Linked DNA regions of Homo sapiens: region 1 is linked to region 2. The links come from fine-mapping of genetic effects on plasma protein levels. Region 2 holds a variant in brackets. A gene starts in the other region. All regions are shown on their forward strands.

Region 1 (14,556 bases), not on the chromosome of region 2:
TGAGGTGGGAGGATTGCTTGAGCCAGGGAGGTCAAGGCTGCAGTGAGTCGTGATCGTGCCACTCTACTCCAGCCTGGGTGACAGAGCAAGATCTTCTCTCAAAAGTAGTAATGAAATGAAATGAAATAAAATAAGATAAAATAAAATAAATCTGCTTTCTCTCGCATAATATTGAGGACATAGGAGTTGTTGTTTTCTGCCCAAAGGACCAAAAAGAGTGAATTTAAATTCCTACTGTGAAGTGAGGGCCTGGACTTTAGAAATCAGAACATCTTTCAATAATAATTATATTCATGAAAAGAAAAAAAATACATGATCCTTCCTAAGATTGCCTCTAGGGCAGAAAAAATAAAAGAAGTATAACAGGCTTTAAAAAGTTTTTAAAAATCTCTTCTAAGAAATCCTCTTTCTCTGATCAAATTTTCATATTTTGAAATTTTTCTTCTCTCTTCCCATCTCCCTCTTGCTCTCTCGCTTTCTCTCTCTCTCTTTTTCAAAATTCTCCTTCCAATCATTCTATATAAAAGACATGGAGAAACACAATCCTAGGGAGTTCATCTTCCAGGAAACCAAGCTCCCATGACGGAAAGTCCATGAAACTGAAAGTTTCACTTTTTCTTTTTCTTTGATACTATTTTTCCTTCTAGATGTTTTTCTTCTAACTGTGAGTCTAATGTTTCTCAGTTTTATTCCAAGTGCTCCTAATCATACTGAAGTCTCTCTCCAGGGATCACCCTCACCCTAACATGAGACAGATTTTCACAAAAATAAGATGCCTAGGAGGTCGCTTGAGTTTGGTTTGGCTTTATTGTGGTTTTATTTTTTGGAAGAGAACCCCTTTGCTGTCTCCTGAGGCATGTTTAGAAAGGGGTGTGGACAGGCCAAGGAATGATATAAACATCCCTAGGAATAATAAGATATATATAGAAAAAAAAAAAAAACCTTTCCTGTATCCTCTTAGTATTAACCATACTATAAAAGGCCTTAGTGCTAGGGTCAAATTTTGGATACCAATTACTGTGTAATTATATGAAACTTTGTGGGTGGAGAGTTGTCAGACTTAACCAGTTACCCTTCATCAGGCATCAGAGAGGGAAAATTTTGTTTTCCACCCAAGAAACTAAGCTGACATTACCATATACAGTCTATTAGTATACCTATGAAATGCAAAAGGTCTTAAAAGCTGGAGAAGACACCGAGAGTTTAAATAATGTGCATGTTACAAACTAGTTGCAGAGCTAGGATTAAATTATGTTTAACGCTATACTCTGCACACTTTTCCATGAGCCAGTCAGGAATCACAGAGACATGGGGGCAAAACTGGTGGCAATGTACATAATATTTCAGAAAGCACTTTTTCATCCCTTTGTATTTTGAAATGTAAACGTCTTTGTTTCCTTAATCCTCACATATGGCACATAGGAAACTTCCTCATGGGAATCTGAGTTCACGGGTTGAGTCTGCTTTTCTGTGTTCATGTAAATGCAGGTTTCTTTTCTCTTATGAATCTATTTCAAATATTGCTATTTTCATACTCTCTAAATGAAAATCTGTGTTATCCTTCCTATTATTTGAAAAGAGTATACATCTAAAAACATATGAGCTATTTCTAGAATATCATTGAGGTTCTAATTCACAGTATTTAGAAATTTAATTATATTTTTCATCTTCAGTAAAAGTTAGGTGACTCAATTTTATATCCCCATCAACAGATATTATTTACTGAAATATAATTCAAAAACAACATTACCATTAATGATAATTGCTCAAATTTCTTGAGTTACTGAGAAAAATGTCTTATATGAATGTTCTCATCTAGCCTCACAAACACCCCCTATAAGGTAGATATTATTATCTCATTTTACAGGTAGGGAACTGAGGCCTAGCAGGTTTAGACAGCTTATTCAGGAACACACAGCTACTATTAGCAATAGTTACTAATGAACTATTAGTAACTCCCCAGGATTGTGTTTCTCCATGTCTTTATATAGAATGATTGGATGGAGAGTATTGAAAAAGAGAGAGAGAGAAATAGTTATTAATAGTAACCATAAGTGTGTTCTAGATACACATTATTTCACTGGAAGCAACCTTTACAAAAATTGAATTACCAAGGAGTCACTTAAGTTGCCTAAGTCACTAAGTTGCACAGAGCTACCCAAGCTGACTGATTCCAGAGCTGGACATTTTCAATCATCTTCCTATCCTCCCAACACATCTCAGATCAATATTTATACATGGCAGTGCATCTGGAATCATAGAATGACAGCAGCTTGCAACTTTTCCCTTCTACATTATGAAATGTCCACTCTGCCAGCAAGATGAATTCTGAAAGCATAAATTTAATCATACTTCCTCTCTTCCATAGGAAGAAGTTTCCCAAGGCTCTTTCTGTTTTAGTCAGTTTCTTAGTGTACTGTATCAGGCTCCTCCTAATAGGATCCCATTTTACTTCTTAGCCTCATGGGTCCAGATCATGTCACTTCCTCTGGGAACTCGCAAAACTAAACTCAATCAGTAACTCATTCATTCCTATATTGCTTCTGCGGCCTCCAACATTGATTTAATAGCACTAAATGACATTTACTACAACTATTGATTTAGAGTATTCCTTCCACTTCTCTAAGCACCTGAAAAAGAGGCTCCTCTAGTACATCCCATAATGTCTTGTCATTAGTAGGTTTGATTTAAAGAGTTGTTGAATCAGTTAACAGCGATTTATGTCATGACTGTGATGAGGGATTTATGCTGTAATTGAGGAAATAAAACTAAAACGCTGGGAAATTCAATAGTACTGTAATTAATGTGAACAAGGGAAAAGAGGAACTTGAATTTATTATTAAATTTTTTAAAATTATTTAACCAAAGTAATTTTTCATATTCTTTTGATAGGATAAAATTTAGTCTCTGGCAGGAATCTCAGCCTGTCAGTTATTTCATCCTCTCTCCTCTTACTGTACTGTTAATGTGAAGTTCTCTCCCTGAACTTATTTTCAATCTACAATTGAGTTAGAATTTCCCACATCTTAAAAAATCATTCTTAAAATCTGTCACCCAATGCTGTAATACCTCAGCAATAACCCATTTTATCTTCAAAAAAAAAGAGAGAAAGAAAAAGAGAAAATGACTTAAATTGTTTATTTTATTATGTAACCATCAGTTCCTTTTCAAACCACTGCTGTCAAAACTAAATATTTTCCTCCTTATTGATAAATTGTTAAATAATCATTTTAGTCTTCCTTTCGCTTAAACTCTCTGCAGTATTTGTTATTTGTTGTTTTTAAAACTCACAGTCATTATCATTGACTTTTCTAAAACTCTTGAATTTATTGTCCTTCCATTACTCTAATTTTCCATTACTCTTGAATTTATTGTCTCTTGATGCCCTTGTTGTCTCTCTCCAAGACTCCTGCTTCTACCACTCTCTGCTATTCATCCCTGGTAGCTCCTTTTGGAATCTTTCATTCTTCTTGCTCCTCAGGTGTTGATATTCCCTCAGATTATCTCCTTGACACTCTCTTCTGTTCATTCATGTTTTCATTTTACATTCCTTCCCTCAGTGATCTCACTCACTCTCATACATTTTAGTTACTAGCCATTTATTTGACTTAATGACTTAGGTACCTCATTTACTTTATTTATTTAATTACTATGCCAGTAATTCCCACATGTCTATGTAGCCCAACCCACATCCTGCATATACGGGTGTCTTTGGACAGCTCCAAATGCATGTCCCTCCTTCTGCAGACCCCTTAAACTCAAACTCAATTCATCATCTTTCCTGTCCCTTCTATAGTTTCTGTCTCAGTTAACATCAGCACCATCTACATTACATCAAACAGAACCTAGTCAACCTACCACCGAAGTCCCTTTCCTTGTCTCCTCACATGTAACCAATCACCGATTATCTAAACTCCAACACCTCGACATCTTTCATATCTGATTCTTTTTCCTTATTTTTACTATACTGCCTCAGTTCAGGTTTTTCTACCCTTGTACTGGACTAGTGGAAAAATTTGGTATCAGCACATGCAGTTTCATATACCTTCAACTTATCATTTCCATTGCAGCCAGGAAGGTCTTTCCAAAATGCAAAATTTTGTTTCTCCCTATCTAAATCCTGCATTGACTTCATTTTAACTATTGAATAGAATTAAACTAGATCAGCATGCCCTAAAATCCCTCCTTAACTTGCCAGACTTACCCCTTTGCTAAGTTTCCCTCCTCCAACTCTACACCTACGCCATACATATTGCTTATAGTTCTCTAAAAATACAAAGCTACTGAAAACCTTCATGACTTTCCCTTCATACGTCTCTCTGTCTATAGTGTCCCCAGCCTCTCAAACACCCTCACTCCCGATTCCTTATTATGTGGAAGATGTTAAAATTAACTCAACTCCACAGTTGCTCCTTCTGTTAAGCCTTTCCTGAACTCCTCTACTTAATTAGGTAAAAATTAAGCCGAGAGCTTGGTTAAGCTCTCGGCTGTACTGTACATGCTTCTGCCATAACACCTTATTATACTTACTCCTTAGTTGAGAATTGTATTAGACTTTCAATTTCCTTATGAACAGGGACCATATCACATTGGACATTATATCCTCAGTACTAGGATAACATGACCCCAAACATAAGTTTGTGAAAAATGTATGAGGTTGTTGTTTTTCATTTTCACTATCTTAATTGTTTGGCATTTTTACTATCTTAATTGTTTGGCATTTTTAAACACAAACATAGTTGTTACGTCAATTGTTATTGACAAAAGTCTAGAAATTAAATGAATGTGTGTGTGATTTATTTTTATTAATTCTAAAAAATAAAAGTTGCCAGCTCTTAATGGTATCACATCATTATGTTGAATCTGAATCCTCCACATTGCCGAAAATTTCTGAGTGATTTCTGCTGTTATTTTTATCAGCGAAGGTATATCAGATATGTTTATCTAAGAAATAATTATACTTCTATGATGGTATTCCCCTAAATGTTTGTATTACCATAAAAAGATGAAAACAAGATCTCATATATGTTGCCTAAGATAACTATTTCCAGATGATTTCTTCCAAGACAATTCTTTGTAATCTCCACTTCTACTGTTTCAATATCCATTTCTTACAAAGAAGCTCCCAGATGTTGCAGCTAGTGTTTTATCTTGCTCCACCTCCCTCTCCACCCTTCAACCTCAGCAGAACTTATTTGTACATGCTGTTCTTAATTATGCTGATCTCTAGTCCTTGACAGAGTTCCTGGCTCCAGTCAAAGGTGGAAAATGAAGTTATATACAAGCTACTCAAAACCACAGCCGTAAAAATGGACTCTTCGTAAGTTTTTTTGGAGGAAAACGCTTTGTATCCTATTACACATATCCTGTGGCTACAAAAGCTGACATCCCTACTTTTGTCACTTAGCTTCATTTCAAAGAGGTTGGAAATCCCCAATGTCCCTTAACAGCTTACTGGGTAGTTTAGTTAAAAAAAAAAAAAGCCATATTAGTAGGTTTCAGGTGGAGGGTCATTTAATAAATAGAAATAAATAGAAAGTGAATGGAGGGTTTAGTAGGAGAAAGGAAGGAAAACTAAAAGTTATTTGATAAAGAAATAAGGAACAGGATAGTTTTTTTTTTTTAAAGGTATATCCAGATTTACAAAGGTGAAGAAAACAATGATATAATCAGAAGGGAAAGGGCATATTAAAACACAGGCACTGAATGAATGTTAAAATGTGGGATTCCTTTCAACATTCCATTTCTTAAGAACCTAAAGTGTTCCTTTCAGCAATTTTGTGTCAGTCTATATCAGATCAGACAGACATTCAAATATTTTACATAATTTATCATTCTCAGTACTCACAACCACCTTGTAAAGGAAGTTTTATTACTTCTATTTAATATTAAGTCAAGTTAATATGAATTAATATACTTAAAGTATTTAAAACACTGCCAGCACATAATGAGCCCTTTATACATGTTTGTGGCCGTTAATATTTTATAAATAAAGAATATGATGCTACCAGGATACTTAAACAACTCATCCAAAGTTACACAGAAGGAAAGTGGCATACCTGGTTTAGGACCTAGAACCTAGTCCTGTGTATATTACCATGTGAGTCCTTTTCACTAGAACTGAAGTCATATTTTAGCTTTAGATTGGCTGAGTGGCCCAGGAAATAAAATCCTTCTCTAAGTGTGGGAATTATGGAACTGAATATAACTGAAAAAAAAAAATCACTACTATGTCACAGGGCGAGTAATTGGAAATAAAATTATAAGATGCAAGCTAAATATCTCCATTTCTAGGAGGGATAGATCATCTCACACATTTCACAAGGACTGTGGTCTATTTGGACTCCAGGAGACAGGGTACCTGTGCGCCGGGGCTCTGGATGCCGAGTTGTGGCAGAGCCTTGAGAATGCAGGCTCATGGTGGTGTCCCCATCATCATCCAGCATGTCCCTCGTGCTGCTGTACTTGGCCTGCATCTGGATTCCTACAGCGGTGAGAGTGAAATGTGGTCGGATTGCCCTGGGCCGCCGGGCTACTGTGAGCTAGTTCAGGAAGCAAGGCACTAAAAGGCATTCCTAATGTTCTTTCCCAGCGAGGGGCAGGGAAAGTCTCTGACTGCAATTCCTGACTGGACAGGCCCAGCCCCTCTCCTGTGAGCTTGTACTCTGAATGCCAAATCAGTCAGGCTGAGGGGAAATAGCATGTGTTTTCTGTTTAGGCCGTCTCAGTCTAAACAGTTGTCAAAAAGTTGGCCTTTCTCAGGTCTTTTTTGTTTACCTGTTTGCATTTCTCATGTAACTTCACTGTAAAGAAGGCAAGAACTTACAATAGCACGGTGTAGCACTGTGGTTCCTTCAGAGTCTGCAGAATAATAATAACTTGGAAGGACACACATCCCTGTTTCTTACCCATCCTTTAGGGAGTCACTTAGTTTAACCTCTCTGTGTCTTTGTGAAAAGAGAAGAGATTATAGGACCTAGCCCCTTCCTTTCTCCAAGAACAGAGTAGTGGTCTTTCTTATAGTATCTGAACTTGATTCAACATTTTATAGCACATTTGGTACATTATGATCACGAGGAATTATACAATTTACTGGAAGTAAAAACTTTTAAAACTATTACTAACCACCATGTGGTTTGGGGAAGCCAGTTCATTTGTGCCTAAATCTCCTAAACTGAGAAGAAAATGTTTTAGGTAATGTGAAAAAATTCTTCCTGAATCAGTACATTAGAATTATATTCCCATCTTAGTCTGTTTGTGCTGACCTACAACAGGATACCTGAGACCAGATAAATTATAAGCAATAGAAATGTATTTCTCAGCATTCCAGAAGGTGGGAAATCTAAGATCAAGGCACTGGCAGGTTTGGATGTCAGGTGAGAGCTGCACTCTCTGTAGAGGAGGAAGGGTATTCTCACGTGGCAGAAAGCAGAAGGTCAAGCCAGCCAAATGCTACATGTAGCGTCTTTTATAAAGGCCTTAATACCATCCTCAAGAGAGAAGACTTCAAGGACTAATCATCTCTTAAAGGCCCCACCTCTCTCAATACTACCACACTGGCAACACCTGAATTCTGCAGGAAACACATTCAAACCATAACAAGACAGGTATCAGTAACAACCTTGTGCCTTTGGGAGGACAATTAACAATTTGCATCTACATTTCCTAAACTGAAAGACAAGAAGATTGTTTTAGATAATGTCTAAAAGTTCTTCCTGAATCTGTACAATAGACTTATATTACTCTACCAAAACTTTTCCAGATGTTAGGTGATAGGTGGGCAAAATCAAGCATGCTAAATATAAAGGAGTGTCAGAATGCTCCAGTTGGGGTAGCCAGACCATATAAAAGATCTATGAGGAAGTGCACATTGTGGATTCACATGTGTTTCAAGCTGTTTGTTGTTCATCAAATTATTCTAAATTTTTTAAAAATTGGAATTTTTTTTTTTTTAGATGGCAGATTGGAGGCAGTGTTAGCATGACTCTACCACTTGGAAGGACAAAATAGTGAGTAAAAAATTCTCACTGTGGGCCAGCCATGGTGGTCACGCCTTTAATCCCAGCACTTTGGGAGGCTGAGGTGGGTGGATCACCTGAGGTCAGGAGTTCGAGACCAGCCTGACCAACATGGCAAAACCCCGTTTCTACTGAAAATATGAAAATTAGCCGGGCGTGGTGGCGGGTGCCTATAATACCAGCTACTGGGGAGGCTGAGGTAGGAGAATCACTTGAATCCGGGAGGCGGAGGTTGCAGTGAGCCAAGATCACACCACTGCACTCCAGCCTGGGCAACAGAGCGAGACTCCATCTGAAAAAAAAAAAAAAAAAAAAAAACCTTCTCACTGTGAACTCTTTTCCCAAGAAGCAACACAGGAACTGAACAGGAAAACTGAAAGAATCCACAGACTCTTTGAAAGAAGCAGCAGGTTATACCTACACCATGAGCTAGGTGAAAAACTGTAAGCTCCCAGGGTGTGTGAGGTGAAGAGACTGGCTCCAGGATACATACCCCCACAGGGGAACCTGAAAGTCCATGCCATGGGGGAAGGCCTTAACCCGTCCCAGCACTGGAACCAATTAAAAGAGCAGTGATGAATATAAAAGTAAGAGCAGCAGCAGGAAGAGGCTTGTGTGCATTCCCAGTCTCCAGCATGAGCCAAGGGAAACTATTCCTTATGCCTCACAGACAACCTCACGGAACTCAGCCAACTAGCTCAGCCAGGGGTTGCACATTGTAAAAACTCCCAACTGAAATTCACAATATAACCTCAAGTGAAATGAACTCCCTTGGCCAGAACCAGAAAGGTGAGTGGGAAATGTGTTGCAGCCGTGAGTGCAGGATCTGGGTGCCAGCTGTGTGGGTGGACAGAGAGGGGCATGGCCTGAACGCCAGCAGTTGCTATCACCACGGGAAAAGTTTATGGCCTCAGGCAGTTGTGAGCTCTGAGTGCAGACTGCCTGGAACTTAGCTCACTGCTGCTAGCAGAGTACTGCAGGAGCCAGATCTGCCTTGCCAACTGTGTGACATCTGGGTTAGGCTTACTGCTGCCTACTACTCCCCACTCCCTGTGCAACCACATCTCCAAAAGGGGCCGCTGCTTGCCATGCACATGGTGACTCAGAGTGCAGACCCACCTAACACAGCCCTCATCTGGCTTTGCCCCTCCACCCACCGTGGTAGCTTAATACAAAGGACAGAAACCCTGGGGAGATTTATAGCCCCATCCATCACCTGAGAAGCCAGACTACCTACCCTGGGCAACATAAGGCAAGCACAAATCCCACTGCTACTACCACACCTGATACTCTTTTGCAAATGCCACCCAGTAGCTGGAAGCCTACCAACACAGTCCATTGCAGCATCTGTAGGTGGAATAACACTGCACTCAAGAAGGACAAAACTACTGTGTGACCTCAGCTATTACCACTTCCTGCACTACCCTGTCTAACCAGGAGGTCCTGAGTCTATCCACATGACCAGTTTATTACTACCTGAACTAGCATTCAAGAAAGACAACACACTAAAGTTATCTATAATCAAGGAATCTCACAGGTCTATGTCACGCCTCTGGCACCCCCATCAGACCTGGTGCTGATAACAGCTGCTGGAAAACTGGAGGACAGGTCATATCACTGGATCCTTAGCAGACATCCCCCAGCACTAGTCTGGAGCCACTGAGTGGCTAGACCCTGAGGAGCAGCAGCACTCATAGTAGTCTGTCTCTCAGGAACTTCTACTCCTAAGGAAAGGGAGAGTGTGCCACATCAAGGGAACACCCTGTGTGAATAAAGAATCCAGATGGCAGGTCTTAAGGATTAGATTGTTCCACTGGTGGGAAGTTTCTTTCAATAGAGGCAGAATTGAAGTGCTGGGCTCAGCAGGGAATGTCTACAGCTGTCCCAACAGTCAGACAGCCCTGGTGCTTATCAAGGATCTTGGAGAAGGGGACTTCTTACCAACCTCGTCCACCACTGCAGACACAGCTGGGTCTTCTCCCACAAGAGCTCAGCATGGGTGCACCCATAGACAGACTTTGTAGAACACTTCAGGGTGACCGCAACCCCACAGGGGAAGCAACCCTCCAGTTTCAGGCTTACATAAGAGGCAGAGTCACAGTTCTCTACTTGGAGCACTAACATTCCAGCAGATGAAAAGAGAGGCCTGTCTGATCTGAATAGCCAGAATATTGGGACAGATGTGAGTCTGGGAGATGGATAGCTTCCCAGCTGACCTGACAGGGGAGCTAAGGTGGCTACCACCCTTCCCCTGATAAGACTTCAGTGTGTCTCCCTGACAGCTCCCCCAGCCCCTTTTGTCAAGGCTGAGACCTCTGCCCACCATTGGGTATTGCATTTACCCACCTTCTTTAGCCACAACTGGTTCCTACCTAGGAACACCTCCACTACTGGCCTGAAGCCTGAACCATCAACCCAGTGAATAAAATACTGGAGCAAAGTAAATAAATTTAAAAGTGCATACCACATTGGAATGAGATAAGCTTCCAGAGACAGTAAGTTTGCTCACACATTCAGCACATTACTACTATGTCTAGCATCTGAGAAAGCCATCATACAAAGTTTCTCTATAACCAAGGAAATCATACAGAATTTTCACCCCTAAAAGCACCAAGAACCAAATTAGGCTATAACAAACTATAAACATTAAAGTCAAATTCTTAAGAAGGAAAATAAGAAATAAAATCACACAGTCAAATCAAAAATAAATTTAAGAATAATTAGAAGAAATAGTCTACCCAGATGAGGAAGAACCGGAAAAGTAATTCTGTTAATATGATAAAATGGGGTTCTATAACACCTCCCAAAAGATCACATTAGCTCTCAAGCAATGAAGCCAAACTAAGATAAAATCTTAGAAATACCAAATGAAAAATTCAGAATGTTGTATAAGAGCTACTCAAGGAGATACCAGAGAAAGGTGAAAACCAACATAAAGAATTTTTTTAAAAAATTCAGATTATAAATGAAAAATTTTCTAGAGAGCTAAATATCATAAAAAAGGAACGTCTGGAAATGAAAGGCACATTTAGGGAATTACAAAATGCAGTGGAAAGTATTAACGATAGACTAGAACAAGTAGAAGAAAGAATTTCAGAATTCAAAGACGAGGCTTTCAAATTAAGCCAATCAGACAAAAATGAAGAAAAAAGAATCAAGTAAATGAAGTCTCCAAGAAATATGATAGTATGTAAAACAGCCAAACCTAAGAATAATTGGTGTTCCTGAGGGAAGAAGAGAAAACAAAAAGTTTGGAAAACTTATTTGAAGGAATAATTGAGGAAAACTTCCCTGGCCTTGCTGGAGATTTAGATACCCAAATCTGGGAAGCTCAAAGAACTCCTGAGAAACTCATTGCAAAAAGATCACCACGAAGGCATAGTCGTCAGGCCATCTAAAGTCAACATGTAGAAAAGAAATCTAAGAGCAGTCAGACAAAAAGCATCAGGTCACCTATAAAGGAAAACCTATCAGACTAACAGCAGACTTCTCAACAGAAACCTTATAAGCCCAAAGGAATTGGGACTCTATCTTTAGCTGCCTTAAACAGAGTAACTGTCAGTCAAGAATGTTGTATCCAGCAAAACTAAATGAAAGAGAGATAAAATGAAATGAAAGAGAGATAAAGTCATTTTCAGACAAACAAATGCTGAGAGAATTTGTAGTGCTACCAAACCAGCATTACAAGAAATGTGAAAAGGGCTGGGTGTTTTGGCTGATGCCTGTAATCCCAGCACTTTGGGAGGCCAAGGTAGGAGGATCACAAGGTCAGGAGTTCGAGACCAGCCTGGCTAATATGGTGAGACCTCATCTCTACTAAAAATACAAAAATAAGCTAGGCCTGGTGGCTCATGCCTATAATCCCAGCACTTTGGGAGGCCAGGGCAGGAGGATCACCTGAGGTCAAGGGTTTGAGACCAACCTGGTCAACATGGTGAAAACCCATTTCTACTAAAAATACAAAATTAGCTGGGCGTGGTGGTGGGTGCCTGTAATCCCCACTACTTGGGAGGCTGAGGCAGGAGGATCACTTGAACCCAGGAGGTGGAGGTTGTGGTGAGCCAAGACCATGCCATTGCACTCCAGCCTGGGCAACAAGAGGGAAAAGTCCATCTCAAAAAAAAGAAAAAAGAAAATAAAAAATTAGCCAGACATGGTGGTGGGCACCTGTAGTCCCAGCTACTCGGGAGGCTGAGACAGGAGAATTGCTTGAACCAGGGAGCTGGAGGTTGCAGTGAGCCAAGATCGCACCACTGCACTCCAGCCTGGGCAACAAAGTGAGACTCCGTCTCAAAAAAAAAAAGAAAAAAGAAATGTGAAAAGGAGTTCTAAATCTTGAAACAAAGCTCAATATGCACCAAAATAGAACCTCTTGAAAGCATAAAACTCGCAAGGCCTATCAAACAACAACACAATGAAAAACACAAAGTATCTAGGTAACAATTAATATGAGTACAACAGTACCTCACATCTCAATATTAACATTGAACATAAATGGCCTAAATGCTCCACTTAAAAGAAACTGATTGGCAGAATCAGTTTTAAAAATTACAAACCAAATATCTGCCATCTTCAAGAGACTCATCTAACATGTAAGGACTCATATAAATTCAAGGTAAAGGGGTAGAAAACAATATTTCATGCAAATGAAAACCAAGTGTGAGCAGGAGTAGCTCAAAATAAAGGCATGGAGGAAGATATACCAAGGAAATGGAAAGCAAAAAAAAAGCAGGGGTTGCAATCCTAGTCTCTGATAAAACAGACTTTAAACCAACAAAGATCAAAAGAGACAAAGAAGGCCATTACATAATGGTAAAGGGATCAATTCAACAAGTAGAGCTAACTATCCTAAATATATATGCACCCAATACAGGAGCACCCAGATTCATAAAGCAAGTCCTTAGAGATGTACAAAGAGACTTAGATTCCCACACAGTAATAATGGGAGACTTTAACACACACCCCACTGTCAATATTAGACAGATCAACGAGACCGAAGGTTAACAAGAATATCCAGGAATTGAACTCAGCTCTGCACCAAGCAGACCTAATAGACATCTACAGAACTCTCCAACCCAAATCAACAGAATATACGTTCTTCTCAGCACCACATCGCACTTATTCCAAAATTGACCACATAGTTGGAAGTAAAGCACTCCTCAGCAAATGTAAAAGAATAGAAATCACAATAAACTGTCTGTCAGACCACAGTGCAATCAAATTAGAACTCAGGATTAAGAAACTCACTCAAAACCTCACAACTACATGGAAACTGAACAACAACCTGCTCCTGAATGGCTCCTGGGTACATAACGAAATGAAGGCAGAAATAAAGATGTTCTTTGAAACCAATGAGAACAAAGACACAATGTACCAGAATCTCTGGGACACAAAGCAGTGTGTAGAGGGAAATTTATAGCACTAAATGCCCACAAGAGAAAGCAGGAAAGATCTAAAATCGACACCCTAACAACACAATTAAAAGAACTAGAGAAGCAAGAGTAAACACATTCAAAAGCTAGCAGAAGGCAAGAAATAACTAAGATCAGAGCAGAACTGAAGGTGACAGAGACACAAAAAACCCTTCAAAAAATCAATGAATCCAGGAGCTGGTTTTTTTAAAAGATCAACAAAATCAATAGACTGCTAGCAAGACTAATAAAGAAGAAAAGAGAGAAGAATCAAATAGATGCAATAAAAAATGATAAAGCGGATATCACCATCGATCCCACCGAAATACAAACTACCATCAGAGAATACTATAAACACCTCTATGCAAACAAACTAGAAAATCTAGAAGAAAGGGATACATTCCTGGACACATACACCCTCCCAAGACTAAACCAGGAAGAAATTGAATCTCTGAATAGACCAATAACAGGCTCTGAAATTGAGGCAATAATTAATAGCCCACCAACCAAAAAAGTCCAGGACCAGACGGATTCACAGCTGAATTCTACAAGACGTACAAAGAGAAGCTGGTACCATTCCTTCTGAAATTATTCCAATCAATAGAAAAAGAGGGAATCCTCCCTAACTCATTTTATGAGGCCAACATCATCCTGATGCCAAAGCCTGGCAGAGACTCAACAAAAAAAGAGAATTTTAGACCAATATCCCTGATAAACACTGATGCAAAAATCCTCAATAAAATACTGTCAAACTGAATCCAGCAGCACATCAAAAAGCTTATCCACCACGATTAAGTTGGCTTCATCCCTGGGATGCAAGGCTGGTTCAACATACACAGATCAATAAATATAATCCATCACATAAACAGAACCATCGACAAAAGCCATATGATGATCTCAATAGATGCAGAAAAGGCCTTCAACAAAATTCAACAGCCCTTCATGCTAAAAACTCTCAATAAACTAGATATTGATGGGACGTATCTCAAAATAATAAGAGCTTTTTATGACAAACCCACAGCCAACATCATACTGAATGGGCAACAACAGGAAGCATTCCCTTTGAAAACTGGCACAAGACAAGGATGCCTTCTCTCACCACTCCTATTCAACATAGTGTTGGAAGT
Region 2 (5,167 bases):
CATTTAGCATCCCGAGCCTCCTCTCTGGGCCTCATTTTCCTCATCTGTAAAACGGAGAAAGGCCCTGACAGCCACGGTCTGTGTGAGGCTCCTGAGATCTCATGTACAGAAAGTGCTTGGCGTGGAGCTGGGCATGCAGCAGGGGCTGGGCACACGGTGGCCCAAAGGAGCCCTGGGCCTTCACTGATGGGCTGTGTGGCCACTGACACACCTAGGCCTCCTCACCTGTAAGACAGACACCATTGTGCCATCCCATGTTCTCACCCAGAGGCTCCTTTTCTCTTCCAGTGGGAGGCCAAGAGCATTTCGCTCACTTGCTGATCCTCAGGGACACCAAGACCTACATGCTTGCTTTTGACGTGAACGATGAGAAGAACTGGGGGCTGTCTGTCTATGGTAGGCATGCTTAGCAGCCCCAAACTCATGCCCCTCTCAGGCCTCACCCCCCATTCACCCACCCCTGGGCTGGCCCCTAGAACCCCAGCCCTCCCTGGCCTCCCGCCGGGCCCCACCATGTCCCCAGTCAGTCTCCTTGCTCCCCCTGCAGCTGACAAGCCAGAGACGACCAAGGAGCAACTGGGAGAGTTCTACGAAGCTCTCGACTGCTTGCGCATTCCCAAGTCAGATGTCGTGTACACCGATTGGAAAAAGGTAAACGCAAGGGATTGGACAGTGCCCACCTTGTCCATGGCCCAACTTGGGCAGCCCCAGAGGCCCAGAGCAGGAGAGCTGCCAGGCAAGGCTGCACAGCTAGGCAGATCTTCTGCTTTTAGGCACCTGCCTCACTGTAGGGACAGCTGAGCTCTACAGAGGCCCAGGGGTGGTGGATGAGAGCCCAGGAGGGAGAAGTCCCTGTGAAACCAGGGAGGACCTGAAAGCTAACAGGAGGGAACAGCGTGAGCCACGGGGTTGGGGGATTGGCAATTGGAGGGGACGTAATGCGGGGAGTTACCACCTACAGACGCGTCCCAAACCCCAGGCTTTCACCCCACCTCCACTCCCCACTCATTTTTAATACCCGTGCAGTGGGGAATTGATACTGTGGTTTTCAATGTCACCCACACTGCAGCACGGCCACAGTCACCATCCCGATTTTTGCTACAAATGAAAATTACTTTATAATGAGCTCCTTAACACTTTTCTTTAAACCTGTGTTTGGAAGACTTGCGTTGGTGTGGCCCTGTGCCCAATACCTGTGAAATCACAGCACCGATGAGCTGGTTCCAATTTTTAAAATATATACATGCAGTACTTCCATGACTATTCAAAGAAAAACAATTCC[T/A]TCCATTTGCCATCTGAGATGACCACCAGTGGTGTGAACTACCTCCTGCCCCCATCTGCAGTCCCAGGATCCTGGGACAGGGCTTATGAACACAACCACTGTAGTCAGCTCACCTGATCCACAGCCTGGCACCCCCACTGTCTGGCTAGGGAGCCTCGAATGGGTCCCAAGGCCACCCTGCTCCTCAGTTACATCATCTGCATAGTAGTGGTGGTTGTGAGGAATTCAGGAGCTGCAGCATAAGGGCTCGGCAGGTCCTAAGTGCACAGTAAATGCCAGTGATTCTTAAGAGTCTGAGCTCCCATTGTAGAGGCAAGTAAGCTGAGGTTCAGAGACAGAAAATGACTTGCCCAAGATCACCCAGCTGGGAAGTGACAGTGCCAGGGTTGGAGCCCTGGTTGAGCTGGTTCCACAGGCCAGAGCTCATTCTGCCCTCTCCCTGGAAGACCTCCCACCCTGTCCCCATGCCTCTGCTTCTCCCTCACCCCAATTCCCCGCTGCCTTCTAGGATAAGTGTGAGCCACTGGAGAAGCAGCACGAGAAGGAGAGGAAACAGGAGGAGGGGGAATCCTAGCAGGACACAGCCTTGGATCAGGACAGAGACTTGGGGGCCATCCTGCCCCTCCAACCCGACATGTGTACCTCAGCTTTTTCCCTCACTTGCATCAATAAAGCTTCTGTGTTTGGAACAGCTAAGCTGTTAGTCATTTGTTCATTCATTCATTCTGAAGCCTGCCCTGAGTTCAACCCTGGCTGGGCACTGGATAAGACGCTGTCCCTGGTGGGAAGAGCCCCACACGTGCCAGGATGGAGGATGACAGGCACCGAGTGCTGTGGGAGCCCAGCACTGTGGGAAGACATTTTCTTCTGCAGGGCGAAAATCTGGGAAGGCTTCCTAGAAGGGGCATCTGAACCAATCTAGAAAGATGAGGAGCATAATACAACCTGCTGTTCTGTGTACAATGTGTGATGATCAAATCGGGGTCATTTCCACCACCTCAAACATTTACCATTTCTTTGTGTTGGGAACATTATCACACAGTTCCCCATAAATATGTACATTATGTGTCCATTTAAAACAATACAAGCAAACAAATGTGAATTTCTAAACTGAGACTACTGTAAGGCCTTTCTCCTAATAGCAAGATTGTAATAAAACTTCAACTAGTCATAAAAAAAAATCCTTTTCTGTTTCTGCTGCAAGCAAGGAAATGAGAGGATGCATTTGAGTAACCTTGAGGCAGAAGACCCTAAACAGGAGTGGAGGTGTGATATTGTTTGGCTCTGTCCCCACCCGAATCTCACATGGAATTTTCAGCCCCATGTGTTGGAGGCGGGTCCTGCTGGGAGGTGATTGTATCACGGGGCTGGTTTCTAATGGTTTAGCCCCACCTCCCAGGTGCTGTTTCTCACAAGGTCTCATTGTTTAAAAGTGTGTAGCACCTCCCCCTTCGCTCTGTCTCTCCTGCTGTCTTGTGAAGAAGGGACTTGCTTCCTCTTTGCCTTCCACCATGATTGTAAGTTTCCTGAGGCCTCCCAGCCATGCTTCCTCTGAAGCCTGCGGAACTGTGAGTCAATTAAACCTCTTTTTTTCATAAACTACCCAGTCTCAGGTAGTTCTTTATAGCAATGTGAGAACAGACAAATACAAGGTGGATGGGGTGGGGAGAGTTCAGGCATGTGGTGCCTATCACAAGGACCTTATTCCAGTATTACCATGGCCATCGGGGGAGGCACGTTGTGGGGACCAGGCTGGAGGCAGGAAGGCCTGAGTGAAGGCTGCTGTGGGCAACTAGGCAAGAGGCGGTTGCCTGGGCCAGGACAGGGCAGGGCAGGGAAGGGCTGGGGTGATGCAGAGGGCTTGGGGCCCAGGCCAGAGGGGCTGGGTGTCTCCATGGACGTGTCCTCAGGGTGCTCACCTGGGAGACCCAGAAGAAGGAGACAACACGTAAGGGTGAGGCTGGTCCCTGGAAATCAGTTGACATCTTGCAAATGTGGAGCCCTGAGGTGGAGCCAAGCCCGAGGCACAGCCCACTCAGTGGCACAAGCCACGAAGGGCCGGCCTCACCCAGACCTGGGGGCTCATGATTGACAGCCTCTTGTTACGTGAGGGAAGCAGCACTCCTCCCGTGGCAGAAAAGTTGGGCCTGAGTTGTTCCATCTATTCCGTATGTGCAGCTGCGTACACCATACAGGGTGATAAGACCATGAGCCTGAGGCTCTGACACCCCAGGGTCCAGTCCTGTGTCCTCAGGCACCACTCCCCTTTGTACCTCCTGTCCCAACAGCCAAGCTCCACAGGGCCAAGACTACAGCATCCTTTGCTCAGCACCCAAACCACTGCTGTGCCCACAGCACGGAGGCTGGGGACACCGAGCTGATGTCCTCAGAAGGCAAGTGGACAGGACAGCCTCTGGGGTCCCACAGTGGCCTGGAACTGAAGGCTCAGAACCTAAAAGAAGTTTCCCCATTTCAATGTTACTTTCAGTAAGACACCATTTTCAACCATACTGAGGAGGATCCGCTGAAAAATGAAACAGAAATGAGTCGTGATGGGCAGGGCAGGGAGAAGCAAGGGAGACGAGAAGTGGGGAACATGGAAGGAAAAGCCACGTGAGGAAGAAACCAGAGGTCAAGAGAAAAAGAATCATGGAGGTAGAGGAAGCAAAAAACACACATAACAAAGAATGTGGACTTTGGAGTCAAACTAATGTGAGTCCAAACCCAGGCTCTCTCCCAAACCAGTTTGGGCAGATGGCCCAGTGGAACCTCACTCTCCTCATCAGTAAAAAGGGGGCAGAGTGAGGGTCCTGAGAGCTAGTACAGGGACTGTGTGAAGTAGACAATGCCCAGTGTTTAGCGTAAGAATCAGGGTCCAGCTGGTGCTCCCTAAACAGCAGCTGCTGTTCACTGTTGAAAGGCGCTCTGGAAGGCCAGGCGCGGTGGCTCATGCTTGTAATCCCAGCACTGTGGGAGGCCGAGGTGGGCGGATCACCTGAGGTAGGGAGTTCGAGACCAGCCTGACCAACGTGGAGAAACCCCATCTCTCCTAAAAATACAAAATTAGCCAGGCGTGGTAGCACATACCTGTAATCCCAGCGACTCGGGAGGCTGAGGCAAGAGAATTGCTTGAAACCAGCAGGGGAGGTTGTGGTGAGCCAAGATCGAGCCATTGCACTCCAGCCTGGGCAACAAGAGCAAAATGGCGAAACTCCATCTCCGAGAAAAAAAAAAAAAAGAATACTTTCTGAAAGTATTTATTCATACAAATAAAGACTTGACCCATAAGGTAGGAACGCAAATGGGCCACGGAATCACTCATTCCACAGTATACACCGAGTGCCCTTGAAGTGCTGGGCACTGCTCCAGGATTGGGGGCATATTGGTGAAAGAGAAGCAAGCTGCCTGCTCAGATGGCAGGGAATGGGGAAAAACAGGGAGACAGTTTCCTGTTTGAGATGTTGGGAGATGCTTCGAGTAGTATATTTACTGGAAATAGACATTCAACTTGGATGTCCCTTTTTGGAAATGTGCCTGCGTCCAGGGCTGGGTTGGGGCCCCAATGAACTTTGGCTCTGACATAGCTGTTGCCACACTCAGTGGAACTGAATCCATGTTTGCCTTCACCCGGCATCCTTCACCCCAACTCTCCCCGCCACAACATACATCCCATGCCAGCCTGGGGACCCTCAAAGGTGCTTCATCATTAGGTTTGTGGCTGGGTCCTACTGAAGTAAGTCTTGGCACTCAGAGGGATAGGAATTGAATGAAGACATGAGATTCCTCTGCGGGAGGCCTCTCTAGGAAATCTGTGGACTCACACGTTTACTAATGTTGCTGCAGCCCCGCACCCACCTTGGCCTTGGGCAGCCATACTCTAGGGCT

Direction of the effects. Positions count from the first base shown, and alleles are read on the strand shown. Strength reflects both the effect of a copy and how common the allele is.
In carriers of allele T in region 2, the plasma level of the protein whose gene starts at base 6,539 in region 1 tends to be lower than with A alone (moderate association).

The links. A credible set is the group of variants that fine-mapping cannot tell apart. PIP is the posterior inclusion probability: the model's chance that the variant is causal. The UK Biobank Pharma Proteomics Project read protein levels with antibody pairs (Olink). The fine-mapping took linkage between variants from a reference panel, not from the people measured, so its PIPs are less certain.
Region 1: CLEC1A starts here. The variant in region 2 is the best candidate, but not a certain one, in a credible set for the plasma level of the CLEC1A protein (UK Biobank, PIP 0.88).

Annotation. Positions count from the first base shown.
Region 1 is chr12:10,092,447-10,107,002 of GRCh38, forward strand. It overlaps CLEC1A (C-type lectin domain family 1 member A), which reads right to left and starts at 6,539. Exons shown (of 6, transcript NM_016511.4): 1 at 6,362-6,539. The coding sequence starts at 6,476.
Region 2 is chr9:114,324,502-114,329,668 of GRCh38, forward strand. It overlaps ORM1 (orosomucoid 1), which reads left to right. Exons shown (of 6, transcript NM_000607.4): 4 at 289-396; 5 at 548-651; 6 at 1,791-1,978. The coding sequence ends at 1,856. Among named protein-coding and RNA genes, the nearest start is that of ORM2, 2.8 kb to the right of the region's middle. The variant T/A (reference allele first, on the strand shown) is at 1,283.